4 linked regions of the Homo sapiens genome follow. The protein of the gene in region 1 purifies or fractionates together with the protein of each later gene. This does not show direct contact. Each region holds a gene or a part of one and is shown in the gene's direction. Other genes may lie near its edges.

Region 1 (7,944 bases):
ATTTTTGTATTTTTAGTAGAGACAGGGTTTCACCAGGTTGGCCAGGCCAGTCTTGAACTCCTGACCTCAGATGATCCACCTGCCTGGGCCTCCCAAAGTGCTGGGATTACAGGCGTGAGCCACCGTGCCCGGCCCTGGAATTATTTCTATGATATTCTTTGATGAAAAGGCCCTCCCATTCCACCTCCCCTTCTTGAGAGAGATTACCTTTTGTCTGGTCATACAGAAGAAATCTTTCAAAGAGTTCATGTTGGATGGGAACCTGATCAGTGGAGGTGTAGGGGAGGATGTCTTCATGGCTGACATAGTCCAAGCCTGGCACAGAGATGCAAAAGACAGTGGTGAAACTCACAGGAGAGGAGAGAGATGGGGTTGAGAAGAAACATTAACTGGCCTTGTTCCAGTATGGGATAACCCTGATATCATACCTCTCAGCATCATAATCCCTCCCAGTGGATGACAGGACATCAGAATCCTCTCCCTGAGACACACCAGACTCCTTCTTGACGGGCACCATTCAAATGCTAACTACTCACCTGGGATGGCATAGAGGGCCCGACTGTCATCATGGTTAGCCAAGAAGGTCACAGCTTCTGTCTGAGATCTCTGAGACTAAGGCAAGAAGTGAATCAGTGGTGAAACCATGTCTCTGCTAAAAAGTACAAAAATTAGGCTGGTGTGGTGGCAGATGCCTGTAATCCCAGCTACTCGGGTGGCTGAGGCAGGAGAATCACTTGAACCCGGGAGGCAGAGGTTGCAGTGAGCTGAGATCTCACCACTGCACTCCAGCCTGGCGACAGAGTGAGACTCCATATCAAAAAAAAAAAAAAAGACGTGAATCAGGGCTTTGTTGGCCACTGTGCAGTCCAAGGCCTTGGGGACCAAGACTGACCTGGGCTCTGTTTGACCCCCTTCCCTCCCTTTGTCCCCATTGGGATGCAGGACTTTCCATGGAGAGGACCCCCAAGCCCAGCCATCTTGCTTACTTACTATATGTGGGCAGTCACGAGCATCAATCAGCACCTGATAGTAAGTGTGAGTTTTGCCTTTCACCTCCTTGGAGCCATGGCCAGCAGGGTTCTCTGCTCTATGGGGTGGGAGAAGGAGGCCAAGATCACCCCAGGAGAAATGGAAGCTGTGGCTGACTCAGCTCCCTACTCCTCCTCACCTAAACAGGCTGGTCTCTGATCTAAAGGGGCTTTAGCACCAGCTGGACACCTGCTCTGCAGCACCTCAGCTCAGCTGCTCCTCAGTTGGGGCAAATAATAGAGCATGGAAGACCATGGTATGGAGCCATCATCTGACCGTGTGGATACCTCTTAAAAGAAGGGGGCCATGTTGAGAAAATCAAATTGCCACCTCAGTCCCCAGGGCCCAGAGTACTCTTGTCTTCTTATATCCCAGGGACTGTCTGTGATCACTTAATGGGGCTGAACCTTTTCTGTTTTAATGTATTCTAGGGATGATGTGAGATTGAGGGAAAGACTCCAGCTGAACATCAAGAAATCAAGAAGACTTGTCCCCCAAATGCCCTCTGGGATACTCATAATGAAAATTAGGAATGGCTTAGGAAAGCATTCTGAGGAGGCCTAAAGGGACTCTCTGACTTAGACTATCCCTGGCACTCAGCACTTTTGTCTCCATGGGTCTTAGTCCCAGAGAAGTACTCTGGGGATGTTTCCAAGGCCTAGGAGGACGCTGTCTTCACCCCTAGTACCCCAATTACATATGTCTGCCATCTCCTCCTGAGGATACTGTGAGGCACAACCACAGGGAAACTTACTTTTCTGGAGCTGCAGAAGCCACATCCCGGTCATACAGTCTGGCCTGCCAGGGAAACAGGACGACACCTCGGTAGCCAAAAATGCTATGAAGGAAAAGCTGGAAGGAAAGAGGGGCCTCAGTGAGTCTGCAGTCCAGCAAATCCATCCAGGTGGGCCCCAGACCACAAAGCAACACAGGTGGAGGCAACTCCAGCACAAGGTCTTGCTACCTCTTCCCTTGAAGTCTGTGATCAACCAGACCAATGCTGGAACACTCTTATTTCTTCTTTACCTGGCTGACTCTACTCATCCTTTAGGTAAAAGCTTAGGCCTCCAGGAAGCCTTCCCTGACCTCCCTTCCACTTAGCACAATGTACAGCTATTGGCCATTTGCAAATCGTTCTTTTCTAGACTAGAAACTCCACAATAGCAGGAATCATGTCTACTTTGCTTTCTGATTTAACCCTAATGCACAATGCCTAGTCCATTGTAGGCACACAGAAAAATAAAATGTTGAACAAACAAAAAGTCTTCCTTACCTACAATATCCTAGAAGGGCCTAAATCTATCCCAGTGGACCCAGAACAAAGCTGATATAGAAAAAGAACCACACATCCAGAGTTTACCACACTGAAGTCAATTTTATTACGGCAAAGCATCAAAGGTATACTTTTCTGAAAGCTCCCTCCACGGCTTCCCACCATCCACTATGTTAGAGAAATCTTCAGCAACTTGGCTAAACCTCACTATAGTCCACACCATCCCTGTCCACATTAACTTGGAAAGAGAACCCACTGACACATTAAGTGCATTCAAATCCAGGAGAACAGAAACCCTATCTATAAAAATTTGATTCTGGGCTGGGTGCGGTGGCTCACGCCAGTAATCCCAGGACTTTGGGAGGCCAAGGCAGGTGGATCACCTGAGGTCGGGAGCTCGAGACCAGCCTGACCAACATGGAGAAACCGCATCTCCACTAAAAGTACAAAATTAGCCAAGTGTGGTGGCGCATGCTTGTAATCCCAGCTACTAGGGAGGCTGAGGTAGGAGAACTGCTTAAACCCAGGAGGTGGAGCTTGCAGTGAGCCGAGACCATGCCATTGCACTCCAGCCTGGGCAACAAGACTGAAACTCCGTCTCACAAAAAATAAATAAATAAAATAAATAAATAAAATAAAAAATGAATACAAATTTGATTCTGGAATGGCACCAAACATCAAGGTGGAATGAATGGAACACCATACCATGCAGGCCTGTGACCTAATCTGACTTTTTTCAGAAGCAGAGCACTCTATGAAAATGAAAGATGACCCAGCCCAATACTCACCTGCCCGGTCTCATATTTTCCATTCTGTTTTGGCACCTCAAACACACCAACTGTCTCCAACACTTTGCCCTCTGGTCGGTTTCTGAGTAGGAAGGAAAAGAACAAGCAACAGAAAAGCTGAGAAGGTAATGGTAGTTATCCATAAGAAAAAGCTCCTAGGATACTGAGGGGCCAGGGCGATGACAGCAGAGAAGGGTTTGGGGTAGTGGGACCAGCTGGAGCAGGAAAGGCTTTCCTCCTCCTTGGTGAAAACCTCCACAGTCTCCCAGTGTTAGATGTGACCGCTCCCATACTACTGTCTTCTCTCTTCACTGGGCATTCTTCATATCATGCCCTCACACTCTGCTCAAATGTACCCCTGCCCTTGTTTCTTCCCTAACCCACCCTCCTGACCTCCCACAGCACTTTAACTGTCTTGCTCACTTTTTCAATTTTTTTAGAAGGGGAGTATCTTTTTTTCTTCTTTTCTTACATTTTCTATATCACAAGTCATCAAACAATATCCTGCTCCCTTTACATTTCAGTTGTGTCCATGTCTTATCTTTATTAAATACTGTAAATTCCCTGGGAGCAATGCCTGAGTCTGATTAGCTGGTACTGCCCCCTCAGAGCCTAGTGTACAAGAGGTGCTCAAAAAATATTTGTCCTGTATTATAATTCCATGTCCATCTCCCCCTCTAACCTGTAGCCCTTACATTGCCCTTGAAAAGCTTAAACATCTCTAGATTTCCTACGGCACATCGCTCTCTCAATACCGTTTTTGTTCATATTCTCACAGGGGTCTTAAATTGCAAATAGCTATCATCTCTCCCCAATGTTCAGTGTCTAATATCAGCCACTAAAATGTCAGTCACCACTCTGAACAGGGCTGCTCTTTCTAGGGGCCCTTCAAATAAAGGCTGTTTTTACTGTTTTGAAGATGTGAACTTTATGCTTCCTCCCACTGATCCACCAGCCCATTTGATCCGCCTGTCCCATCCGTGGAAACAGTTTCCACACCATCCCCATGGCCTCAAACCCCCTTCCCCAAGTCACAGATAGAAAATCGATCTCCCCAAAGTCACTTGGAAACCTGGGGCCTACGAGGGTCCACACCCAAGAGTCTCGTTTCCCACCTCTAGCATCTTTCTGAGGCAGACCTTCACCAAATCCAAAGGCTGAGGGTTCAAGCCAATGCCCTAGGGCTGAATTAAAAAGCTTCCCTCTGACATCGGTGCTGGGGACCCCAGCCGGGGAAGTAGGATTCACTTGGGGAGGGTAACCTGTTCCCCCCCAGGGCCAGCCCTGTACAACCAGGGCTCTGGGCCGCGCTGGCTTCCCTGCTCCTGGCACATGTCCCAGACAGCGCAGGTCGGCTCCCTGCTCGGGACCCTCTCCCGGGTCAAACTCCAGTCACCCTCAGCAGGCCCGGGCCCCTGGCCTCCGCACTGGCTAGGAACACGCTCTCTGGGCTCCAGGCCCAGTTCCTCGCGCCCCCTGGCTCCGTCCCTCACCGGGACGAGAGGTGCCTCCGCGTCGTCGTGGTCGACGCTGGCGAGAAGGCTCCAGCTCCGGCCGCCGCACAGAGCGGCCTTGGCCACCGGGCCCCAGTCAGCGACCGGGACCACCAGCGGCTGCCCACGGCCAGGGCCCGCCGGGCTGTACAGGCTGCCATGTCCCGCCCGAGCGCCCGCCCGGCTGCTGACACAGAGCCCGACCCGCGGCCGGGCGGCGTTCCGCCCCAGTCCCACACTGCCCCGCGCGGCGTCCCGGCCCTCTTGGCCCGCCTGGTCCCACCCCGGAGCTCAGAGCAACTTCCGGTGCGCTTAGCGTTACTTCCGGCGCGCGGCGGGCGGAAGTCCGGGTTGGGGTCACCTGACCGGAGAGCCGGCTAGATATGGCGTCCTCTTTGCTTGCGGGCGAGCGATTGGTGCGTGCTTTGGGCCCCGGCGGGGAGCTGGAGCCAGAGCGGCTACCCCGAAAGCTGCGGGCCGAGCTTGAGGCCGCGCTGGGGAAGAAGCACAAGGGCGGTGATAGCTCCAGTGGCCCCCAACGCTTGGTTTCTTTCCGTCTCATCCGGGATCTGCACCAGCATCTGAGAGAAAGGGGTGAGCCCCAGTCTCCAGTCCGGGGTCCCCTCCTTGTGTCCAGATCGATTCCCTCCTGAGGTCTTTTCCCATCATTCCCCTTCTTCTACGGAGCACTCATCTAGACAAGTCAAGAGTCACTCCATAAATCCCAGGGCCACCCACTTTCTTAACTCCCATGGGAATTTCTCGTGGATGACAAATTTGCTTGTGCAGTTTCTGCTCTTTTGAGAGCCCCCTCTTCACTTCCAGGCACACCTAGGCCCAATTCACCCTTGAGAAAGTCTAGGTTTTTACCAAATACAAATATCACAGGTTTTGTCTCTTCTTTTTCTCCACTTTAGGAATCAGCTTAGCATAGTGAGCTTGTAGGAATCCGGATTTCTTTCCACCTCAAAAGCAAGAGTGGTGAAATCTGATACTTTGTTTTGTTTGTTTGTTTTTTTAATATAGGATGGCAAAAGCTGTGTTGAAAGATCTGGCCTGAGAGTAGCATGTGAGTTCCAGTCCTAGCTCTGTCACTAATCCTTTGAAGGAGTCATTTCTCCTCGCTGGGCCTCAGTTCCCTTATGTGTAAAGGGAAGGAACAGGACAAACTAGCACATAAGGTATTTTGCCAGAAGTAACATAGACCAGCCAGAAGTGCAAAGGGTAGACTGCTCAATTATTAGAACTAGAAAGGACCTTAGAAAGAGATTGCCTAGTATTAGTGTCCTCTGAGCATTTAGCATCACTATGACCTAAACTTATTTAGGGAAGAGCTGTTGTGGCCACAGAACTGATCTAACCCAAAGGCACAAGTAAATGGCTTACTTGTTAGTTATAACACTGGCAGGATAATTGAGAGCTGACAGCTAAAGTCACCTGCGCAGCACTGGGAGATACCTACATGGAATTATCCAAAATTCTTTTCAATTGAAAATGATCCTGGAAATGGATTAATGTAGAGATGGCCCTGTTTTATTTTGGTAGAAAGAAGGGCTACACCCCTCTTGATCTTAACCCTTCAACCTCAGCTCGTGGATCATTGTGTTTGTGAAACCTTTTCTTCTCAGATTCCAAACTATACCTCCATGAGCTCCTAGAAGGCAGTGAAATCTATCTCCCAGAGGTTGTGAAGCCTCCACGGGTATGTAAGGGATATGTTTGTGAGAGTGGTTATTGACTGAGTTGGGCTTATCCATGATACACTGAACTTATAAATCAACTTTTAGGCTTGAAAAATTGTTTTTGAAATCTTTGGGATCTGGGGGAGCCAGATATTGTCCTCCCCATCAGCTGTTTGGAAAATTGAGATCAAAAAAAAAAAAAACAGTTTCAAAGCACTGGAGTTACGACTAGTATGTGGGTCTCCTGATACCTTTAGCAGTGCTTTACCCCTGGAACCAATGATTGTGATGTGCTTTCTAACAAGCTGGGAATATCATTCTTCTCATTTGATTTTTCTGCTTCAGAACCCAGAACTAGTTGCCCGGCTGGAGAAGATTAAGATACAGCTGGCCAATGAGGAATATAAACGGATCACCCGCAACGTCACTTGTCAGGTAAGGACATGCTCTTCAGTACGTGGTCTAGGTAGCCCCTCAGAGTAGGGCCCTGCAGTGGAAGAAGATACAGAGTTTAGAAAAAACATGGAAACTTGGTTTCTATACTGTTCAGGGACCATAGGAAGTCTGCATACAAACAACACAGTTCCCATCTCATTCACTGAGACTCTGGGCTGAGATGGTGACCAAGTTTTAAACGTCATAGAAGTGGGAGTTAGCCGGGCACGGCGCTCATGCCTGTAATCCTAGCACTTTGGGAGGCTGAGGTAGGTGGATCACTTGAGGTCGGGAGTTCGTGACCAGCCTGGCCAACATGGTGAAACCCCGTCTTTACAAAAAATACAAAACTTAGCCTGGCGTGGTGGCGGGCACCTGTAATCCCAGCTACTCGAGAGGCTGAGGCAGGAGAATCACTTGAACCCAGGAGGCGGAGGCAGAGGCTGCTGTGAGCCAACACTGCACCATTGCACTCCAGCCTGAGCAACAAGAGCAAGACTCCATCTCAAAATAAATAAATAAATAAATAAATAAGTGGGAATGAATCTTGGAGGCTTTTTTTCTTCTTCTTTTTTTTTTTTGAGATGGAGTCTCACTCTGTCACCCAGGCTGGAGGGCAGTGGCAGGATCTCTGCTCACTGCGGCCTCCGCCTTCCAGGTTTAAGTGATTCTTATGCCTCAGCCTCCCAAGTAGCTGGGATTACAGGCATGCACCACCACGCCAGGCTAATTTTTTGTATTTTTAGTAGAGACCACGTTGGCCAGGCTGGTCTTGAACTCCCAGCCTCAAGGTGATCCTCCTGCCTCGGCCTCCCAAAGTGCTGGGATTACAAGGTGAGCCACTGTGCCCAGCCATTCGAGCATTTCTTCTGACAGGGCTCCCTACTACTCTATGGCATGCTCCTACCCTGGAACAGGAGAGTAGATGGGTACTGGCAGCCTATGTCCTCTCTCCGAAATGCCTGCTCTGTAGTCCAGAAAAGAGTCAAAATGGTTCCAGACAAAAGAATCCATGGGGAGGGCAGAGTTAATATGTTGGGGAATAGAGAGGGCTGAGCCAGACTGTCAATGGATGCTCTCTGAGCTGCTTCTATTCTGAATCATCTTCTTTTTCTTTTTCCCAGGATACAAGACATGGTGGGACTCTCAGCGACCTGGGAAAGCAAGGTGAGGTACTAGGAGATCAGGCTTCTAAAACCTTTTCCTGAGATGGGTCATGACACTCAGGCTTGTTGTTTGACTGA
Region 2 (7,660 bases), on another chromosome or scaffold:
GAACTTTTCCAGTTTCAACCTCATTATTTTATTTGACCACTTTGAAGATACGATTATTCTGCTTCATTGTTTGAGAAGTCAGTAGTTAAGCTTAATTATCTCTCCCTAGAAAGTAATCCATTGTTTTCCCTCTGGCTTCTTTTAAGTTTTTTTTCCCTAGTTTTGAGCTATTTCATTATGATATGCCTAAGTGTATTTTGCCTTAATTTACACATTCCAATTAAAATCTGTAATGTTTCTGGAAACTGAAGATTGATATCCTTCATTAATTTTCAAACCCTAAGCCATTATCTCTTTAGATATTGCTTCTGTCTCTTTCTCTATACTTCTAGGACTTCAGTTACCTGTATGTTAGACCTCTACATGTATCCTCTATATCTAATTTATTCATATGCTTTATTTTCTGTCCTTTTATCTCTGTGCTTTAATTTAGATATACTCTTCTGACTTAACTCTACCATCACTAGCTTTCTCTTTTCAGAGGTGTGTAATATGCTAACACTATCTGGTGAATTTTCACAATTTCAGTTCTAGAATTTCCATTTGGTTCTTTATAATTTACAGGCTTGTGATAAAATTCTTAACCTTGTCTTTTATCCTCTTAACCATATTAAGCATAATTATTTAAAAGTCTTTGTGAAAACTCCATTTTTTGATCCCCTAGAGCTCACTTGTCTGTTACTGTTCTTGTTTTTGTTTCAGATACAGGGCCTCATTCTATCACCGAGGCTAGAGTGCAGCAGTGTGATCTTGGCTCACTGCAGCCTTGACCTCCTGGGCTCAAGCCATCCTCCTGCCTCAGACTCTGGAGGTGCATGCTCAGCTAATTATTATTATTATTAGTTTTTTAGAAACAGGGTGTCACTATGTTGTCCAGGCTTGCTCTTGTTTTTTGCAACCATTTTGTCTTTTCTCCTTGGATGCCTACTTATTTTTGATTCAGTGTTGAACACTGCATATGAACAATTGTAGAAGTAATTTGAGACCATGGATGAGGTTATCATTCCCAGGGAAGATTTACATTTGCTGCTGGCAAGGACTGACATGATTTGAATGGAGTCCCAAACAACTTGTGGTCCCAAAACAGTACAGTGGGATACCTCCTTGGTGGTACCAAGCCTCCAAATTTTGTCGTCCTAGGGCAATGAGAGTGTTAAAAGTGCTGCTCAGAGTCCTAGTGTCTCAAACATTCATCTGGAATTGGCAGATGCCTTTCAAGAAAAAGCAGCCATAAACCACTCACCTCTCTCATGTCCTTTCTCTCTGATATTGGCCTCATAATTATTCACTGCCTTTTTAGTTCTCTGAAGCTGTCTGAAAACTAAAGTCCTCCAGTGACTTTTTCTTTTTTAAAGACAGGGTCTTTCTCTGTTGCCCAGGCTGGAGTATAGTGGTACGATCATAGCTTACTGTAACCTTGAGCTCATGGGCTCAAGTGATCCTCCTGTTGCAGCCTCCCAACTAGGCCTATAGACATGCATCACCATGCCCTGTTAATTTTTAAATTTTTTTGAAGAGATGGGGTTGACCAGGCTGGTCTTGAACTCCTGGGCTCAAGCAATCCTCCTACCTCAGCCTCCCAAAGCGCTGCGATTATACGCCTCCACAGACTTTTCAATTCCACCTATAGGAAAGTCCCATGGGAATTGGAATTTAGCTATAACATGTCGTTTCTTGTACCAGTTATTAAATAATGTCTTTCAGCTCTATTCTCCCTTCCCACCTCTAGACACTGCTTCTGATGCCAGGGCTGAGACTCTAAAAAACATATTTCTCATTGGCAAATAAAGAAGATCTGATCTAATATTCCCTATTAGACTAAGCTGATAGGTTGATAGAGGGAGACCACAGGGCCACTTCCTGTGAGCATCACCCCAGCTAGGCTTCTTCAACAAGGCAGCAGCACATTCTTCCCACAGAAGCTGAATCCAGTTTAAGTTTTTCCAAGACTTGCAGAACCAGCCTCAGTATGCCTTCTCCTTAGAGATCTGGGTGAGAGTCTCCCAGTGCCCTCTTTAGAGGGCTTACTCCCAGCTCCACAGCCACCCCTCATCCATAGTGTGTGTCTAAGTCCCGTAGGGACCCTCCTCAGAGGTCTGAGTCCCATCCCCATGGGATCTCTCCTCTGGGCTCAATGACCCCAGCCCCAGCTGGTCAACACACCTCCTCAGAGATCTGAATTCCAGCTCTGCAAGCCCTTCCTTTAAGCTGTAATAATTCCAGCTTCTCTTTCATCTTTGAGCTCTAGGGGTGGTAGCTGTGTCCTATGTTTGTAACTCCATATCTTGGGATTTTCTTTTTATTATTTTAAATTTACTTCCTGTTAACTATTGTTTATATTCAGTTCCCTTTGTTTAAATAACTGATGCACTTTCTCTCTCTTCTGTGGTTTGAAGGTTTGTGTCCCCTTCAAAATTAATGTTGAAACTTAATCCCGGGCCAGGCGCGGTGGCTCACACCTGTAATCCCAGCACTTTGGAAGGCCGAGGTGGATGGATCACCTGAGGCCAGGAGTTTGAGACCAGCCTGGTCAACATGGTGAGACCCTGTCTCTACTAAAAATGAAAAATTAGCCAGGTGCGGTGGCGTGCGCCTGTAGTCCCAGCTACTTGGGAGGCTGAGGCAGGAGAATGGCTGGAACCTGAGAGGCAGAGGTTGCAGTGAGCAGAGATCGTGCCACTGCACACCAGCCTGGGCGACAGAGCGAGACTCTTGTCTCAAAAAAAAAAAAAAAAAAAAAAGAATTGAAAGGTTTTTTTAGGGTTACTTAGCAAGTTACCTACAAGTGGTGAGAATATTAAAGTCCCTTTCAAGTCAGAACATTTAATTTTTTTACAAGTATATTAACAACTTTATTTCCTGTTAACTACAACTATCACTTATATTCACTTCTGTCTATTCAAATAACTGTTGTGCTTTCTGTCTCTTCTATGGTTTGAAGAGACAGAAAGATTTGTGTCTCCTCTAAAATTAATGTTGAAACTTAATCCCCACTTGAGGTCCCGACGTATTAACAATCCTGTCACTTTGCTTAACTATGATTTTCTTAAATTCTTTCTTTTAGGGTATAAAATTTTAGTTTTAATCCCCAAAAAGCCCTGGGGAAGGTGATTTAGGGAGTGATGGTATTAATTACTAAAAAATTTATATAATGTTTGGGGTAAAGGGTACTTGGAGTCACAGGCATCATTGCCAAAATAAAGAGATTTGGGAAATGTAGTACTAACCACAGCAAAACCCAGCTCTATATTTAGCGGATGAGGCCACATGGATTTTAGAAAGGGCGGGCTGCAGAGGTCTTGGCTAATACTGGAAAAGAGATTTAATTTGAAAGTGAACAGTCTGTTCTATTCCTTAACATATTTTTGGCTACTAGATGGTCAAGCCATTGCGCAAATAATTGCACCATCCTTGTCTTATTCAAGGTGGGCCGTTCATTTCTTAAAATTACCAGTGAGCAACATGGGAAGCAGCAGAGACGGCTATCGATTACCCCGTAGGGAGTGCCTGTGCTGAATGCCAAGGGCTTCCCTTTCCTGACAGACATCTTTTATGCAGCTGAATCATCTGTATGCAAAACATCAGCCAACGGTGCCTCGGAAAAACAACTGGCTGCTGGGCAAACCAGGTGTGGGCTCCAGCTTCCACCTGCTACTACTGTCGTGCAGCCACGGGCACTCTGGGTGATCCTCACTGGCCTGGGGCTGGTCATCTGCTGCTAGATGACCTTCGCTGACTCTCTACATTGATATTCCGACACAGTGTTCTCTAGAAACCGCATGAGCCAGGAAAGGTGTTTCCTAAAGGAGCAGGGGCCGAGCCTCACGCCGAAACACGTCTGTAACACGTACAGTCACGCGTCCCATGCATCCATGCATTCTGAGACATGCGTCTCGGTTGTGGGATCATCACAAGGTAACTTACACAAACTCAGATGGCACAGCCACTACACAACTAGGCAGCTGATGCGGTCCGCTGCTGCTAGGCCGCAAACCCGCACCGCGTGTGAGGTGCGTTATTCCCCTGGCACGGTAATGACATACCTGTACGTGTATCTCCAAATACAGGAGAGGAAATGTCCTTAGCTAAGCCCTCACCAGAGGACAGGAAGTTTCCAGCTCCGTTATCATGTTATGGGACCACCGTCATATACACGGTCCTCCTCAGACCAAAAGGTCGTTCGTTATACGGCACATGTGGTTCTTCCAAGACCCTTTTCCATCTTTCTGTCACATCCGTGCCTGAGTAAAAAGTGGCCCTGAACTCAACCGTCCAGAGTTGGCGGCAGAACTAGCACCACTGGCCCGCTCCACATGTGGAAGGCGCTGGGCAAGGGCCGCCGCAGACCCCATCAGGATTAATCCCCCGAAAACCTTTCACTCGGGTAGCTGGCACACACCGCGTCAGGGCAGAGGGCGCGCGGGACTACTTTCCGCGGACCCTCGGAGCGGGCGGAGGGATCCGCGCAGGCGGGACGGGGCAGAGGCGGGGGCAGGGGCGGGGGCAGGGGCGGGGGCAGGGGCGGGGCAGAGGCGGGGCAGGGGCGGGGCAGGGGCGGGGGAAGGGGCGGGGAAAGGGGGTGCGGGCCGGGGCGCGGTCAGGGAGGAGGGCGGGGGCCAGGACCGGGAGCTCGGGGCACTGCGCCTGCGCCGTCGCCACCGGTCAGCCCGCGCGAGGGGTCGGCGTTCATTCCTGCCGCTGCCGCCGCCGCCGCCGAGGTCCCGCACCAGCCATGGCGCAGATCCTCCCTGTTCGCTTTCAGGAGCACTTCCAGGTGAGGCCCGGCGGGCTGGGGGGCTGCCCTGTCAGCCGCGCCTCCGCCGGGCCGGACTGCCAGGCTTGACCCCGCGCCCCCAGCCCCGCTGAGCCGCTGCCCAGCTGGCCGCGCCGATTTCCGACCTCCCACCTGGGCTGGGGCTGCGGCGTCCCGGGCGCGGCGGCCGCTCCTGAGGACCCGCTTGGGTGCCGTCGCCGAAGCCCGTTACCGGCGGGGCCGGCTGGGGAATGGTGGGGGTGGAAGCCAACGCCCCCTGGGACGCCCCGCTCAGTGCCCGCGAGGAGGCACACAAATTCCCGCTGCAGGCAGGGCAACCCAAGGGCCGCGCGGATCCCACAGCTCCACGCCCCTCCTTGGCGTCCTGCGGTCCTTATTCGCCCCTGAGTTTGCCTCTGTGATCGGTTTTCGTCCCCAGGGCGGCTTCGCCTGGGAGGACCGTGAACATGCGTGACCCAAGAGAAAAATTTCTCAGGGCCAAGCCTAAATAGGGCTTTTCAATGCAGTAACACCCCCAAAGCCTGCCTTTTTAATAAGGTCCCAGTTTGTTCTCCATTTGTTTGTGTTCAGAAACATAAGGACTGGCCCCCTGCTTTGAGCAAAGGCTCAGGTCGGGCGTCGTGCGGGCCGCTCGCGGGTCTGCCCGGGAGCGGTGCTGGTCCCCACGTTTACCCTGGGAGGTGCGGCAGAGGAGGGATAGCCAGCGGCTCCTCCCTGAGTGCTCTGTGTTAAATCATCACACTACCATTCGTTGCGATTCGCTTACTCTTTTCTAGATGAGGAAACCGAGTCTCAAAAGTGTTAAAGAACTCATCTTCATTCAATAAGAACAGGATTCAGACTCAAGTCTTTTTGACCACAAAGTAGTACATCGAGGAACGTGCTTGCTTGAAAGTTCCTATTTTCACAGTGCAGAGCACTGTTAGCCCTAGATGCAGACGGGAAAAGCCTTGGGAACTGTGTAGTGCAGTCCAGTCCCCTCATTCTGCAGACTGGAAACTTGATATCCAGGGGATCCTGCCAGGGTCACTTGGTTAGTGACACAGTGGAAGTTGTATGGAGGTGGGAGTGCCCTGACATCTGTCCGGGCTTCATTCTGCCACTAAGCTAAGCCAGCACCAGTCATGTTGAGGTAGCAAAATACTGCTGCTGCTCATAATAATGATGATGATGTAGTTATCATTTACTGAGCCGTTTCTCTTGCCACTCACTAGACTACTGTATTTTATAAATCTGGTTTAATTTAATCCTCATGATAACTGAGGCAGATAGTGATATCCTGTTTTCTACCATGGGTCACTGAGGTTAATATTCTAATTCCTTCAGCAAAAGTTACATGGCTAGTAAGTGACAAAGCTTGAGTTCTAACCCAGGTCTGATTCCAATGCCTGTGCTTAACCACTATCTAAATATGTTCTTTTCAAAGGGCAAGAAAGCAACAAGATATTTTAGGTGTCCATCAGAGTTTCTAATGTCCATCAGGATTTGTAATGTCCATCAGAGTTGATATGTTCCATTATCTGGAAAATGCTTGTGGCTTGTGGTGGGCAGCCACGTGAATGCAAGTCTGGTTTGTGGTCTCTAACACTGACTGGGTCTTTGAGGCTGCTGTGCATTCTGTAGAGCAAACACTGAGTCAGCACACACTGCCTTCACTACAGACATTTCGAGACTTCAGCCTGTTCCTTAAATCCCTGATCCTGCCACTCCTGCCTTGCAACCAGCAGATGACTTGGAGAAAACTGAAGCCATAACTGGGATGTTTCTCACCTATATGGCTGCAGACTTAGATGTTTGTCTGCAGCCACCCTTTCCTGCCTTCCTGTTACCTCAAAAGTAGGTGTCCTTTCTTGTCTATGTTCTGGATCTGGTATCCTTCTTCCCTATAAGGGAGCCTCGTTCAGTCATAGCCTCCCTTTCCTGTATTTTCATCCTTCTGTCTTGTTGTTTCTTCCTGTTTGTGTTGGGCAATGCTCACCTCTCTTCCATCTGTACAACCAGCAAACTTCTTCCCCCGCTCTTGTCCCCACGAAGCTCTTGTCTCATAGCTGGATGTCATGAAAGAGCTGCTTTAGTGCTTCATTATTTTTATGTTCCACAGTAACCTGCAGTCTGGCTTTTGTCCCCATTTTTTCCCCTGAATCTGTTTTTGCCAAGGTTACAAGCCATCCTGCAGGCTTTTTTGTAAGGGCCACATTCTGTCTCTGTCCCATATTCTTACATTTTTTAACCTTCTAAAAATATGAAAAAGACTTTTAGTTTAGCCATACAAAAGCAGGCTGCAGTTGGCTAATCTTTGCTGTAAAAAATAAAATCAGGCCGAGCATGGTGGCTCACACCTGTAATCCCACCACTTTGGGAGGCCGAGGCGGGTGGATCACCTGAGATCAGGAGTTCGAGACCAGCCTGGCCAACATGGTGAAACCTCGTCTCTACTAAAAATACAGTATTAGCCGGGCGTGTTGGTACGCACCTGTAGTCCCAGCTAGTCAGGAGGCTGAGGCGGGAGAATCTCTTGAACCCGGGAGGCAGAGGTTGCAGTGAGCCAAAATCATGTCACTACTCTCCAGCCTGGGTAACAGACCGAGACTCCGTCTCAAAAAATAAGATGCGATGAGCTAGGTGAGATAAAGCCCATCACACCACACGCATCTTCTGTGATGTCCAGCCGCATTTGATGCTGCACTTTACTGCCTCCTGAGGGTCCTTTCTCTACTGTTTTTGGTTCCACAGTTTCCCAGGGTTTCTCCTTCCTCTCTGCCCACACCCACTGCCCCATGGGCGGCTCTTGTGCATGAGCTTGGAATCTGTCTTGAGCCCCTCTGCTTTTTCATTCAGGACATGCTGCTGGTGATGTTATGTATTCCCATAAGCTTGATGTTCCCA
Region 3 (6,866 bases), on another chromosome or scaffold:
TATCTACTACTGTAGCCACTGGCCATGGGGCTACTGAGCACTGGAAGTGTGGCTGGTGCCATCAGGGAAGCAAATACTTCATGTTCTTTTTATTTTATTTTATTATTATTTTTTGAGACGGAGTCTCGCTCTGTCACCCAGGCTGGAGTGCAGTGGCGCAATCTTGGCTCACTGCAAGCTCCACCTCCTGGGTTCACGCCATTCTCCTGCCTCAGCCTCCCCAGCAGCTGGGACTACAGGCACACCTCCACACCCAGCTAATTTTTGTATTTTTAGTAGAGACGGGGTTTCACTGTGTTATCCAGGATGGTCTCGATCTCCTGACCTCGTGATCTGCCCGCCTCAGCCTCCCAAAGTGCTGGGATTACAGGTGTGAGCCACCGCACCCAGCAAATACTTCCTATTCTTAAATTTCAATTAAAAATTAAAAACTGGCACTAGATTCCATTTTTTGAAGACACATATATATAAATACACATATATATGTAGCTGGGACTCCGAGTAGCTGGGACCGTAGACACGCACCACCACGCCTGGCTAATTTTTGCATTTTTAGTAGAGATGCGGGTTTCACCATGTTGGCCAGGCTGGTCTTGAACTCCTGACCTCAAGTGATCCGCCGGCCTCAGCCTTCCGAAGTGCTGGGATTATAGGTGTCAGCTGCCGTGGCCGGGCTATTTCAATTAATTTCAGTTAAAAATTAAAAACTGACATGATTTCCGTTTTTGACTATATATATATGTACACACACATTAAAGTTTTCAAATACATAAATACACACATATGTACACATTATACATATAAATGTAAATATATAGATATTTGAAACAGGGTCTTGCTCTGTCACCCAGGCTGGAGTGCAGTGGTGCAAATATAGTTCACTGCAGCCTCGACCTCCTGGACTCAAGTAATCTCCTGCCTCAGCCTCCTGAGTATCTGGGACTACAGGCATGTGCCATATGCCTAGCTAATTTTTAAATTTTTTGTAGAGATGGGGTCTCCCTATGTTGCCCAGTCTGGATTCAAGTGATCCTCCCGCCTCAGCCTCCCAAAGTGCTGGGATTGCAGGCGTGAGCCACCGTGCTCAGCCTCGTGTATATTTTAAATACCTTAGCGTTTCTGAATTTTCCTTTTCAGTATAAACGCTGTAAATCTAAATACTGTGGAGATAAGTATTTCTGAGGAAGCACTGGTATCCATATTGGAACACCCCATGGATGGGAAACACACCAGATTCTGAAGACTTGGTACATCTCAGTTACTTTTTTTTTTTTTTTTTTTTTGAGAAGTAGTCTCGCTCTGTCACCCAGGCTGGGGTGCAGTGGCGTGATCTCGGCTCACTGCAAGCTCCGCCTCCCGGGTTCAGGCCATTCTTCTGCCTCAGCCTCCCGAGCAGCTGGGACTACAGGCGCCCGCCACCACACCCAGCTAATATTTTTGTATTTTTAGTAGAGACAGGGTTTCACCGTGTTTGCCAGGGTGGTCTCGATCTCCTGACCTCGTGATCCGCCCGCCTCGGCCTCCCAAGTGCTGGGATTACAGGTGTCAGCCACCGCGCCCGGCCACTTTTTTTTCGTTTATGAGGTGGGGTCTTGCTCTGTTGCCCAGGCTGGAGTGCAATGGTGCCATCACAGCTCACTGCAGCCTCCAACTCCTTGGCTTAAGCAATCCTCTTGCCTCAGCCTCCCAAGTAGCTGGGACCACAGGCACACACCACCGTGCCCAGCTAATTTTTGGTATTTTTCGTAGAGACAGGATCTCATTATATTGCCCAGGCTGGTCTTGAACACCTGGGCTGAAATGATCCTCCCGCCTCAGCCTCCAAAAGTGCTGAGATTACAGGCATGAGCCACCGCGCCTGACCTTGTTTGGATAACTTGAGATGTGTAAAATATATTATTAAAATTAATTTCACTTGCTCTTTTTTAGTTGTTTTACTGTGGCTACCAGAACACTTAAAGTTATGTTTGTTATTTGCTTATCTTTCTCTTGGAAAGCTGTGTTCTTGACCTGTGGGCCAAATCCAGCTGCAGCCTATTTTTGTATGGCTTGTGAGCTAAGAATGGCTCTTACATTTTTAAGTGGTTGAAAAAAAAACCCAAAATATGAAAACCATTCTATCAAACGTGGAAATTACATAACATTCAAATTCCAGTGTCTGCAGACAAAGCTTTATTGGCACACAGCTGTGCCCATCCATTTATGTATCATTTACGGCTGCGTTTTCTGTACAACAGCAGAGTGGAGTAGTTACTCTACCCAAAAAAGCTAAAAATACTGACTGTTGGCTTTTTTACACTTTATTTTTTAGAGACAGGGTCTCACTTAGTCATCCAACCTGGAGCGCAGGGATACGATCATGGCTCACTGCAGCCTCCAACTCCTGGGCTCAAGCAGTCCTCCCACCTCAGCCTCCCAAGTAGCTGGAATTACAGGCATGCACCAACGTCCTCAGTTAACTTTTAAAAACATTTTTTTGGGGGGGCCGGGCGCGGTGGCTCATGCCTGTAACTCCAGCACTTTGGGAGGCTGACGCGGGTGGATCACGAGGTCAGGAGTTCAATACCAACCTGGCCAAGATGATCAAACCTGGTCTCCACTAAAAATACAAAAAAAATAGCCGGGTGTGGTGGCGGAAGCCTGCAATCCCAGCTATTCAGGAGGCTGAGGCAGAGAATTGCTTGAACCCAAGAGGCGGAGGTTGCAGTGAGCCGAGATCACGCCACTGCACTCCAGCCTGGGCGACAGAGTGAGACTGCGTCTCAAAAAAAAAAAACAACACAAAACTTTTTTTTGGCGGGCTTGGTGGGTCACACCTGTAATCCCAGCACTTTGGGAGGCCTAGGCGGGCAAATCACCTAAAGTTAGGAGTTCGAGACCAGCCTGACCAACATGGAGAAACCGTCTCTACTAAAAATATAAAATTAGCCTGGAGTGGTGGCGCATGCCTGTAATCCCAGCTACTTGGGAGGCTGAGGCAGGAGAATGGCTTGAACCCGGGAGGCGGGGGTTGCAGAGAGCCGAGATCGCGCTTCTGCGCTCCAGCCTGGGCGACAGAGCGAGAATCCATCTCAAACAAACAACCAAAAAACCCAAAAACCATAGTATCCTCTTGTGTACGCAGCCGGCACTCAGTAAGTGCCCCTGAAGAGCACTTATTTATTCATTGCTGCGCGAAGCTACGGGGGCAGGTGGCACAGCGCCACGCAGGAGTAGAGACTGCCAGATTGTTCTACCGCCAACCTTAGTGGCGCCACAGGAGATGGACACGGGAAGACTATGACGTTACTGGCCCTGTGACGTCATGGCAGGATCCGGGCAAGAGAAGCCAAACGAGGTGACGAGCTGTAGACTACAGCAAAAATATGGAACGCTTCACGAATTTGCGTGTCATCCTTGCGCAGGGGCCATGCTAATCTTCTCTGTATCGTTCCAATTTTAGTATATGTGCTGCCGAAGCGAGCACGACTCAAGGGTTACTGTCACACCTATTTTAAGCCCTTCAATCAAATCATCTTTTGGTTAGGATAACTTATGGTCGGTTTCATATTTAGCATAATTTCCTACAGTGGTATGTTGCAGAACAACTTTCGTGCTTACGCTTACTTTGATGTCTTCGATCACGTAAAATCCCATATCTTATCGTAATTTTACCGCCTTATACTGGCCTCATAGCCGCGGTGGATTGTGGGTGCCAATATGCAAAAGAGGTGGCCCAGATGCAGGCCCGCCCCCTGGAGCGGCCGAGGTAGGGGGTGAGGCCTCCGCGGGCGCCGCTGGCATCCCAGCGTTCTCTGCGGGCGCAGGGGGGCCGCTCTTGCCCGGCGTGGCGACTCGCTAGCGTCAGCAGCGCCGCAGCCGGACGAGAAAGCGGAAGATGGCGGCGGCGGCCGGGAGGCCGTGAGGAGAGCGGCGGCTGCGAGGGCGGCCGATGGCGGCCGGGAGGCGCCCTCGGACACTTGCGGGTCGTTAGGGCGCGACGCTGGGAGGCATGTCGGAGCACGTGGAGCCCGCAGCTCCGGGGCCCGGGCCCAACGGCGGCGGCGGCGGCCCGGCCCCCGCGCGCGGGCCTCGCACCCCCAATCTCAACCCCAACCCCCTCATCAACGTGCGCGACCGGCTCTTCCACGCGCTGTTCTTCAAGATGGCTGTCACCTATTCGCGGCTCTTCCCGCCCGCCTTCCGCCGTCTCTTCGAGTTCTTCGTGCTGCTCAAGGTGACCGCGGCCCCGACCCCCGACCCTTGACCCCAGCGGCTGTCCCGACCCCCAAGTCTGCTACCTCCGACCGCGACCCCTGGCCCCGCTGGGGACAGCGAGCGCCACCCTGCACCCTGAGGCCTATACCCGGCCCTACCGATTAGGGCTCTCCCTCGCGACCTCTGACCCTGGGATTGGCCAGGGACACCGTCTCGTGACCCCATCCCGCCCGGGGACGTCCACCCGGGAAGGCCGGATCCCGCTGCACTAGAAGCCGCTGTTCTCTACTCTGGAAACCTCACTGTCAGCTCCCTCCAGGGCCCATCCTGTCCCCGGCGACCGCCTTTCCCAGGTCCCCACCTACCCAGGCTTGGAGTCCGGTCCTGGCCTGCGAGGTAGCACCTCCCGCCCTTTGACCCCTGACTGTGCCGCCTGAGACCCTCAGTTCCGAGGCCTCTCTCCCCTCCCAATGTGCTGGCCCAGAACCCAGCCTGACGCAGGTCTCCCTCGGACCAACCCCTGTCCTGGAAGTCGACTCCCCACTCCCCTCTCTCCCTCCTTGTAGCCTTTCAGCTGCGTTCCCCGCTCCTGAGCCTCAGGGGAATGTGACTTAGCTGAGGTCACCTCGCTAGGGTTAGCGGCAAAGTCACCGGCAGCAGCGTACCACCCCATCCCCGGCCTCTTCCTCCGCTGGGTCCCCACTCCCTTCCTGCTTCAGGAGCTCAGGTTGTGGGTCTGTCGCCCGTGCCTCCCCTATGAGGCACCGGCCTCCGCGTCTTGGGCTCTGTCCCCCTCCCGCCCTCCTCAGATGGCAGAGGTCTCAGCCGTGCAGGACAGGCATCGGCCTGACTCCCTCTGAGAAGGAGTCTTGCTTGGGTGACAAGAGGGGCTCAGTAGCAGCTGCAGCCCCTCAGAAAACAAGCTGGCCGGGGTCCTGGGCCACCTGGCGAAATGGGGACGTGGCCGTTTTCGTTCTGCATCAGAACACCGCCGCGCCGGGGCTTGGGGGCTGCTGAAGTTGCGCCGTGAGCTTTTTGGATCTAGCCTGCAAAGAGGGGTCCGATGCTGGCGGGCCAGGCTGCGATCGTGGGCAAGTTCCCAGCCTGACACAGGTTGGTCAGGAGCTGGCTGCTTTTTTGGGCTCGGCAAGTGGAGCTGGACCTTGGCCGTCCTGCGGACCTGGGTGTGGGTCCCAGCCTGCTGCCACTTCACGGAAGGCCCCCCAGCCTCCAGATCCGTGCCTCCCCAGGCCAGAGCTCAGCCCATCATCCTTCCCACCTTCCTCCCTGCAGCCCCCCAGAGTGGCATGGTCGCCTCAGTAGGCACCTGAGCAGGGCTGTGAAGGGTTACGCAGGCAGGCGGCCTTTCCCGGCTCTGGGGTCCACAGACGGGGCCTGAAACTGTGGACGGAGGCTGGTCTGTGGACGTGGGTTTTCCTTCCATGGAGTAGCCTGGGAACAGGATGGAGCCACTGTGTCCTTAGGCTTGTGGAGGGTGTGTGCTGGGTGCCAGGCCAGGTTCCCCCGACGGAGCTCAGCCTCCTTGGGAGGTGCATCCCTGTCGCCTGGGCCCTGGTCCCACCATGTCCCGGTTTGGAAAGGGATCAAGCCTACCCGGCTCCATCTCCAGGCCAATACCACTCACAGGTGGTCAGATGGGGCTGGGCCAGAGCTGGAGTTCCCCGTCTTCTGTGTAGGGTGGAGACTCTTGGGAGGTTCTCAGTAACCCCAATCCCTCCTCTCTCAGCAGAGGGCTTTGGACTGTGAGATCTCTGGGTGGTGAATTTTTTTTTTTTTTTTTTTGAGATGGAGTCTTGCTCTGTCACCCAGGCTGGAGTGCAGTGGTTTGATCTCGGCTCACTGCAAACTCCACCTCCTGGGTTCAAGCAATTCTTCTGCCTCAGCCTGCGGAGTAGCTAGGATTACCGGTGCCCACCATCACAACCGGCTAATTTTTTTGTCTTTTTAGTAGAGACTGGGTTTTGCCATGTTGGCTAGGCTGGTCTCAAACTGCTGATTTCAGGTGATCTGCCCGCCTCGGCCTCCCAAAAGGCTGGGATTACAGGCGTGAGCCACCATGCCTGGCCTGGGTGGGGAAATCTGTTCTTTGTGAATTTTCCACCCGGTAATCTGGTGGCACAGAATCTGACCCTGCTGCCTTCACTTTTACTTATCTGCAAAGTGCAGGCTGGAACTGCCTGATTTCAGAGGCTGCCTTGAGTTCCAGAAGGCTCCTCTGCTTCCTGCCTGCCTGGCTTCCGGGGGTCTCCCTGCAGAGAGCCAGGTCCTCCCTGGTATGATCCCTTCAAGGTGGCTTCATCCTGTGGCATCTGTGCAGCTGAGCTCCCAGCCCTGAGCTGGCATGGAGTCCCCCAGCTCTCACCCATGCCTGGGTGGCTTTAGGAAATGCCAGGATCTCCCAGCTCTGAGCCAGCATGGAGCCCCCCGGTCCCTCATCCATGCCTGGGTGGCTTTAGGAAATGCCAGGCAGTGCCAGGTGCTGGGGAGAGAGGAGGCGGCAGGGGCCTGTGTTCCAGGGGCCCTCGGGAGACCTCCATCCAGCCTCAGTATCCACCTCTGCTGGCCTTCATGGCCCTGAGCCCAGTGTGGCAGAGACTGTCCATCTTGGGGCACTGGGTGCCTGCACCTGTGCGGTTGGGCTCTGGACC
Region 4 (7,720 bases), on another chromosome or scaffold:
ACACTAGCCAGGTTGACATGAATATGCAGACTACTACATACTTATATATCTCACTGTAAATGAACAAACTGCTGTTCGCAACATTAAGATCTTATGAGTTTATTATTTTGGGTTGATGTCACCCAGTTGGATTAACTCTCGGATGCTGATAGAACTGGGATTCTCAGGCTGGAAGGCCAAAGCCTGGCTTTTGCCTCATAGTGAATTCCCACAGGAGATAGCATCTCTACTATCTCTCGGAAGACAGCCATTAGCATGCCAACCACAACACTGGCCTTTCTTTGGAAACTTCCACACTCACTGAAGACATGTTTTGTAAACACAAGATTTTGCAAACATAATTTGAAACCACATACAAATAATTTCTACCAAGTCAAAAAGAAGTGCTCCTTCTCAAGACTCAAAAAAAGCAAACTAGATTTTTAAAACCTTTCTACTGGAAAATACAGCACACAAGTGAACATACAATATCAATGCTCAGAATATGGATAATCACAAAATGAACACTAGTGTGACAACCACCACCACCATTCAGAAATGACCAGCACCCCTAAATACTTCTCCATGTCTCTTTCAGACATATCTTTCTCCCCTCCACCCTGGAGGTAATCACTGTTCTAATTTTTTATGGTAACCATTTCCTTGCTTTTCTTTAAACTTTTGTCATCTATGCTGGATTCTTTAAAAATATAGTTTCTGGGTTTTTTTTTTTTTTTTTTTTTTTTTTGGAGATAGCGTTGCCCTCTGTCACCCAGGCTGGAGTGCAATGATGAGATCTTGACTTACTGCAGTCTCAACCTCCTGGGTTCAAGTGATCCTCCTGTCTCAGCCTCCCCAGTAGCTGGGACTACAGGTATGCGCTACCATGCCTGGCTAATTTTTTTTTCTTTTGAAACAGGGTCTCACTTTGTCGCCCAGGCTAAATTGCAGTGGCACAAGCTTGACTCACTGCAACCTCCGCCTCCCAGGTTCAAGCGATTCTCCCGCCTTGGCCTCCCGAGTAGCTAGGACTACAGGCACGTACCACCATACCTGGCTAATTTTTGTATTTTTTGGTAGTGATGGGGTTTCACCATGTTGACTAGGCTGGTCTTGAACTCCTGACCTCAAGTGATCCACTCGCCTAGGCCTCCCAAACTGCTGGGATTACAGGTGTGAGCCACCGCGCCCAGCCCAGACTTTCCTTGTTTTTGATGACTTCTGAGGAGCAGCAGTCAGATATTTTGTAGAATGCCCCTCTATTGGCATTTATCTGATGTTTTTCTCATGATTACACTGGGGTTATGGGTATGGGGGAGGAAGATCATAGAGGTGAAGTGCCTGCCATTATCATTGTATCACATCAAGGGCACACACTGTCAACATGACCGATCACTGTTGGTGTTGACCTTGATCACATCGCCTAGATAGTATTTGTTGGGTTTTTGCACTGCAAAGCTGCTCTCCCCTCCCCCACACCTTTCCATAGTGTATATAGTACCTTTTGAAGAACATAAATTCTTAATTTTAACTGCATGGTCTGGGAGAGGGGCATGATCTTCGCCTCCACAGGGCTCCTGGATGGGATGTCTCATTTGCAGGGATCAGCTCATGTTATCGCGCTCACTCCGGGATCACTCAGAACTCACTGCTGGACTTAATTGGGGGACGAGGGCGAGACTTAAGGAAGCAAATGGAATTATGTATTCTTTCAAATCTTGCATCTGGACCTCTAGTTTTGAAACTCAAGAGCCAAGAATTTGACATTTGTTTTCAGGTTCTCCTGAGAGTCCTCCCCTCAGGGCAACGGATGGCTGCAGTCTTGCCTATTTGGCCTGTGGGGAGGGTGGAGAAAGGCTTCTTTTAGGCTAACAAATGGGGTCATAACTTCAAATATTGTATTACCCTGCTACACACATATCCATCTCTAAATGCTTCAGTGGAAAAGTTAACCGCACATCACCAGTTGTTTACTGAGCGCTAAAGATTGAATCAGCAGGGCTGCATTCACGAAGCAGAACTGCTGACGATTCAGAATATGACCTTGAGTACATATGCCCTTCCCTAGGCTTCAATCTCTCAATCTATGAAACAAGGAGAGGGCTTCCGACAATGTTTATCTTGCTAAATTCCAAGGTTGTAGAGAACAACAATGCCCCTTTGCAACCTCAGGTGAAAAGGGCCCTTAGGTGTAAAGAATACACTATTCGCTGTTAGCTCAAAAGGGGATGTTATTTCTCAAGACATAAATGGATTGTGAAAGATTGTGAGGTTTTCTGGGGGAATGGGGGGGTGGGGACTTATTTTATATTCCAGTCTATTTACAAATTTTTTCATCTTCCTCAAATTCAAAGAAATAAGAATGTACTAGAAGTCTTAAGAACAGAAACATTCACTCCTTTCCCTGTTTCCTTAAGCTGGATGAAATGGCAGGAGGTCTGCTCCACTTTTAGCTGATTATGTCCCTAAATAAGGTTTAGATAAGTTCTTGCAGGGCCTGTGATTCAAAACCTGTTCTAAGACATGCAGGGAGATGGACAAAGAATTTTAGTTGGTGTGAAAAGATTGTGAATTTATCATGCTTAAAAATGAATTTTTAAAAATGATTAATTTTTTTCCGCCGGGAGCAGTGGCTCACGCCTGTAATCTCAGCACTTTGGGAGGCTTTAGTGGGTGGATCGCCTGAGGTCAGGAGTTCGAGACCAGCCTGGCCAACATGGTGAAACCCCGTCTCTACTAAAAATACAAAAATTAGCCGGGCGTGGTGGTTGGCGCCTGTAATCCCAACTACTTGGGAAGCTGAGGCAGGAGAATTGCTTGAACTCGGGAGTTGGAGGTTGCAGTGAGCTGAGATCGCACCACTGCACTCCAGCCTGGGCAACAAGAGGGAAACTTCGTCTCAACAACAACAAAAAAAGTGATTAATTTTTTTCGAGTCAGTCACATTAGAGTGGATGTTTTGGAGGGGTGCTTTAGACATTTTGGTTCTAATAATTTCACATGCCTGATGGAAAAATCTCTCTTCTCCCTTTCAGAGTTCTCTAAAGTCCCATTTGTACAAATTCTCCTCTAGAGGAAAAGCAAGTTTGAGAGTTTCCTGTTTCTTGACGTTAGGTGAGGAAATCGACTCTGTTCCCTAAATTTGAGAGTGGCTTTGGTAAGCATAGTGTGTTCTAGAAAGTTCAAACTATTTAGTGAGTGTTTCTCTTTTTTTGCTTTCTTTATTTTCTAATAATAAAAAGACAGGGCCTCACTATGTTATCCAGGCTGGTTTTCAACTCCTGGTGTCAAAGGATCTTCCCACCTCGGCCTCTCAAAGCGCTGGGATTACAGGTGTGAGCCACCACACCTGGCCTCGAGAGTGTCTTTCTGATTCAGTTTTCAGTTGGGCAAGGTTTTCCTAGGGTGGGTCTGCTACCTGGGGAACTCCTGGGGTCACTGTTTTTAACTCGCTCTCATTTTTTCATCCTCAGGAAACTCCAAGAAGAAAATGGGACTGGAAACTGAAGAAACAGTAAGGCATTCCCCCCCTCCCCCCCGCCAATAAGTCTGTCTTACATTTGTGCAGTAAATCATGCTCAAACGCCTTCAATGGCTTAGTGTAGGTCTCTTATGTACAATTTAAAATCCTCAATAAATGTGCCTAACTGAAAGTTTTAGCTCTGTGCCTCCTCTCTCATATAATCTCTTATTTGATTACTGATGCTTAACCTGACGGGGCTTTCTCCCCACCTTAACTACAGTTTTCACTGGAACAATCTCCCCATCTCCTATCCTTGGATATGAAATCATTTCCACCTTTCAAGGTCATCAGCTGGGGCGTCATTTTCTACCTACAGACGCTATAGTGTGTCCCTTCTTGCCTCACATCATAGGCAAAAGACTATGAACTGCGGGAGGGGAGGAGCCTGGTCTAATTACTATGTCTAGCCTTCATACATCCTCATAGAACACCTTGCCCAGATTGGAAACTGAGTGAATGGACAAATTAAGTAATTAATTAACTTTCTGTCCCATGACTCCTTGTAGATTGGAAAGTCTTTGGAGGTAGAGTTGCCAGACTTAGCGAATCAAAATATAGGATACCCAGTTATATTTGAATTTCAGATAACCAGTAATACTTCTTTTAATACAAGTATGTCCCATAAATTAATTGCGACATAATAACAAATAATCGTTGTTTACATGAAATTCAAATTTAACTGGGCGCCCTGTATTTTATCTGGCACCACTATGTGGAAGGCAGGGGTTCCCCGTTGCGCCTGGCTTCTTCCCAGTAGGTGCTCGGCGTCTGTATACTTGTTAGAGCGAAACCCCAACCAGCCCCGCCTTTCACAGCTGGCGTCCGTAGCCGGGCGGAGGCACACGACCAGGAAAGACAGACACCCTGGTTGGAGACCGTCGCTCGAGACTGGCAGAAAGATCTGCACTCGGGAGGCACCCTCACCCCGTGGGCTCCGGGACCCCTCGACTAGCTCCATCACCCATTCCGACTACCCGCCCTACGCTCCACCTCTTGACCCGTCATCACCGACCGGGGGGCGGGACTGCCCGACTTTTCAATCGCTGCCTACCATTGGTAGAACTCTCCATCCGTTACTTTAAGTCCCGCCTATCAGGCTGTCGCTTCCCAGGTTACGTCCCTTCCGTAGGCCGCGGCGTAACTGGTGATTGGTGGAGAAAGCGGCAGCTGTCCCAGCGGAAGCGACGAAGGGACGGGACCCGGGAGCCTGGACGAGTCCGAGCGCGTCACCTCCTCACGCTGCGGCTGTCGCCCGTGTCCCGCCGGCCCGTTCCGTGTCGCCCCGCAGTGCTGCGGCCGCCGCGGCACCATGGCTGTGTTTGTCGTGCTCCTGGCGTTGGTGGCGGGTGAGGAGCCGGGGGCCGGCAGGACGTGCCTGGGGAGGTCCTGCGCCGCGGGGCTTGGGGGTCGGGGGCGGCCGCGGGCGAGTAGCTGCGAGGCAGGTGCCGCAGTGCGGTCCGTCAGCGGCGGCCTCGCCTCAGCCGCGTCCCCGTCAGCATCTTCTCTGGATCGGCCGTGGCGGCGCGGCCTCACGGGCCGCCGGGGCCGGGGCTGGGCTGCGTAGGGGGCCCCTGAGCCTGCCTCCACCCTCCACTTTGAGGGCGGCGCGTCCGGCCGGCTTCTTGCGCCTGAAAAGGCCCTTCAGAGTACGGAGATGCATTTCTCAGTGAACTGGGATTGAGTCGCAGCCCGCTGCGAAGAAGAGAAGGCAGACTTTTTAGCTGCCACTGGCTGCCACGATGTTTTTGCATTTGTATGGTGCCTTCATTTCTAGTGGTTGTCATCAGTAATTGCTGAAATCCCTGCCCCTCCCTTCCCTTATGTATATTTCCGGATGCAAAAGTTGAGATGGAGTCATTATTTTTATATGACTTATATTTCTTAAGGCGAATACAAAGCACCTCTCAATAGTTTGTCAGAGTTCCAAATTTTAAGGATTTGGAAACAGGATGTGAGTCGCATTTTTAGGGTCACATGTCAATAAATGGTAGCTTTCTGAGTAGAACCTAGATTCCTAAGCATTCAGCAAGAGGTGAAGAAATCAGCTAATACGTGGCCTCTTACTGCATATCATGTGGTAATGTATTTCATTTGACAGCAGTCCTTAGAGGGCATCATCTTTGTTTTGCAGGGTGATCAACCTAAATAAATTACCCAACACTAAACAGGTTGGGTGCTGGATTTGATTTCAGATGAGGTGGTGCCAGCGCATCGGCCTTTTCCATTATATATGTTGTGTTGCACAAGTAACGCTATTACTGTGTGAGAATGTGGGAGTGATGGGGACTGAGACTGGAGGCACAGACAGTAGTGAACAAGAGGCCAAGTTGAGAACGGCTTGGAGGAATGGGTGCTCTGATCTCAGTGTGTCAGTTTAAAACCTATGGGAGGCCGGGCGCGGTGGTTCACGCCTGTAATCCCGGCACTTTGGGAGGCCGAAGCAGGCAGATCACCTGAGGTCAGGAGTTTGAGACCAGCCTGGCCAACAAGGCAAAACGCCATCTCTACTGCAAATATAAAAATTAGCCGGGTGTGTTGGGGCACACCTGTAATCCCAGCTACTCAGGAGGCTGAGGTACGAGAATCGCTTGAGCCCGGGAGGCGGAGGTTGCAGTGAGCCGAGATCGCGCCATTGCACTCCAGCCTGGGCGATAGAGCCAGACCTTGTCTCAGAAGCAAAAACAAACATACAAACAAACCAAAAACCTATGTGAGGTGTTGGGAGGTCCTGCTTGTGGAATGGCGATTTAATTCTGCACCAGTATGCTCTTGAAATCTGCAGATCTCTGTCCCTAGAGGTGCGGGGGTTTTGTGTGTTAATGATAGTTACGTTGTATCCATGCCCCAAACGTTTTCGAGTTCTTTGTTTCTTTCTTCTGTTTCTGGCTCTGGAAAGGTCTTTCTGATCTACTGAGATACTTTGAGGGAATTAATTTTAATTCAGTTTTTGAAATTTTAAAAATATTCCCTTTGATCCTGTGGTTTAACTGAACATCTATTGAGATTCCATGTTTTAATATTTTGACTGATATTATTTTGATTCAGTGAGGTATAGGCTTTTTTGTTTTGGGTCTGAGATAAAATAATTGCTTCTGCACATGGTTTGAACATGTTTTCCTTACTAGCATAGCCGAGTTCATACAGAACAAGAACCTGATCCTGTCAGCTTCTGAATTGCTCAGTCTTGTCAGATGAGGTTCAGTTATTATTTTCCACAATGACTAAATGTGATGTAGTGGAAAACATCTTTAAGAGCTCTGACTTCTCTATTCCAGGCAGAAACAAAAATAGAAATCCTTTAAAACAGTGTTGCCAAACTAGAGGGAGAACTAGGGACCTAGAGAGAGAGGAAGGGAACTAGGATTTTGAATACCATATCATGAGGCGTATTTGATAAAATTCAGATATTTAGCCTGGAGAAGAAAGGCCAAGGGTGAACACATGGAATTTGAAGTGATGTCATGTAGAAGAGGGAGATAGGATCCATTTTTTTATTATTATTGATTCCATCCACCATTCGTAGACGATAATAGCACAGTATAGTGGAGTTCCTAGAGGGAAGGACACTTAGCCCAGACTGGGGAGGCTGAGGAAAATTTCCCATGGGAGGTGCCTCCCAGGGCTAATGTGTTGAAAAGTTGGGGTGGGAAGAAAAGGTATTTGAAACAGAACAGCATGTGTAAAAGCATGGCGATGTGAGAGCAAAGGGGCAAGTAGTTTGGTGGGGCTGAAATGTACAGGATTAAGTTGGGGAGATACCAGAAATAAGGCTGATGAGGTTTCTTGGGTGTTAATGCTTTGGGTTTTGCCTCAGAGTCTCTGGGCAGTGAGAGAAGGCATTTAAGCAGAAGGGTGAATGATCAGATCTGTATTTTGAAGCAGTTATGGGAAAGGCTGGATTAGAGAGTGGCATGACAAGGGTCATAAGGCACCCAATTCTAGCAAACCTGGAGAGGGCCTGAAGAGTGTGCCCTGGACATAGAGGGGAAAGGATTTGTGAGATAAGAAAAAAAGATGAAATTCAGTGGCTAATTAGCTGTGTTGCTGAGGAAGATTTAAAGACGACTGATTCCAGCCACTGGGTGGAAGGAAGGTGGTATCATCCTTCAAGATAGAATACAGGAGAAGTGTGTGGAAAGATGGTGAATTGGGTGTGTTTTTGGTGTTTGCAGCCTTAGGAGTAGTTGGGCTCAGCCTGGGAGAGATGTAGAATAGGAA

Evidence for each region.
Region 2: the proteins of VMA12 (region 1) and CLTCL1 purify together in Homo sapiens (affinity purification with mass spectrometry; 2 studies listed by BioGRID and IntAct, with this or other methods). This does not show direct contact.
Region 3: the proteins of VMA12 (region 1) and TMEM259 purify together in Homo sapiens (affinity purification with mass spectrometry; 2 studies listed by BioGRID and IntAct, with this or other methods). This does not show direct contact.
Region 4: the proteins of VMA12 (region 1) and ATP6AP2 purify together in Homo sapiens (affinity purification with mass spectrometry; 4 studies listed by BioGRID and IntAct, with this or other methods). This does not show direct contact.

What each region holds. Positions count from the first base shown.
Region 1 is NC_000017.11:28,352,705-28,360,648, forward strand, and holds the start of VMA12 (vacuolar ATPase assembly protein VMA12), read left to right. Parts: upstream 1-4,942; 5' UTR 4,943-4,966; coding exon 4,967-5,177; intron 5,178-6,211; coding exon 6,212-6,285; intron 6,286-6,610; coding exon 6,611-6,700; intron 6,701-7,824; coding exon 7,825-7,867; intron 7,868-7,944. Other genes in the region: POLDIP2 (polymerase delta-interacting protein 2), read right to left, coding at 208-315, 537-612, 991-1,087, 1,784-1,881, 3,091-3,172, 4,584-4,744. UniProt on the Homo sapiens protein: Accessory component of the proton-transporting vacuolar (V)-ATPase protein pump involved in intracellular iron homeostasis.
Region 2 is NC_000022.11:19,288,714-19,296,373, reverse strand, and holds the start of CLTCL1 (clathrin heavy chain 2), read left to right. Parts: upstream 1-4,654; 5' UTR 4,655-4,732; coding exon 4,733-4,774; intron 4,775-7,660. UniProt on the Homo sapiens protein: Clathrin is the major protein of the polyhedral coat of coated pits and vesicles. Two different adapter protein complexes link the clathrin lattice either to the plasma membrane or to the trans-Golgi network.
Region 3 is NC_000019.10:1,018,122-1,024,987, reverse strand, and holds the start of TMEM259 (membralin), read left to right. Parts: upstream 1-3,864; 5' UTR 3,865-3,991; coding exon 3,992-4,216; intron 4,217-6,866. UniProt on the Homo sapiens protein: May have a role in the ERAD pathway required for clearance of misfolded proteins in the endoplasmic reticulum (ER). Promotes survival of motor neurons, probably by protecting against ER stress.
Region 4 is NC_000023.11:40,576,255-40,583,974, forward strand, and holds the start of ATP6AP2 (renin receptor precursor), read left to right. Parts: upstream 1-4,715; 5' UTR 4,716-4,811; coding exon 4,812-4,848; intron 4,849-7,720. UniProt on the Homo sapiens protein: Multifunctional protein which functions as a renin, prorenin cellular receptor and is involved in the assembly of the lysosomal proton-transporting V-type ATPase (V-ATPase) and the acidification of the endo-lysosomal system.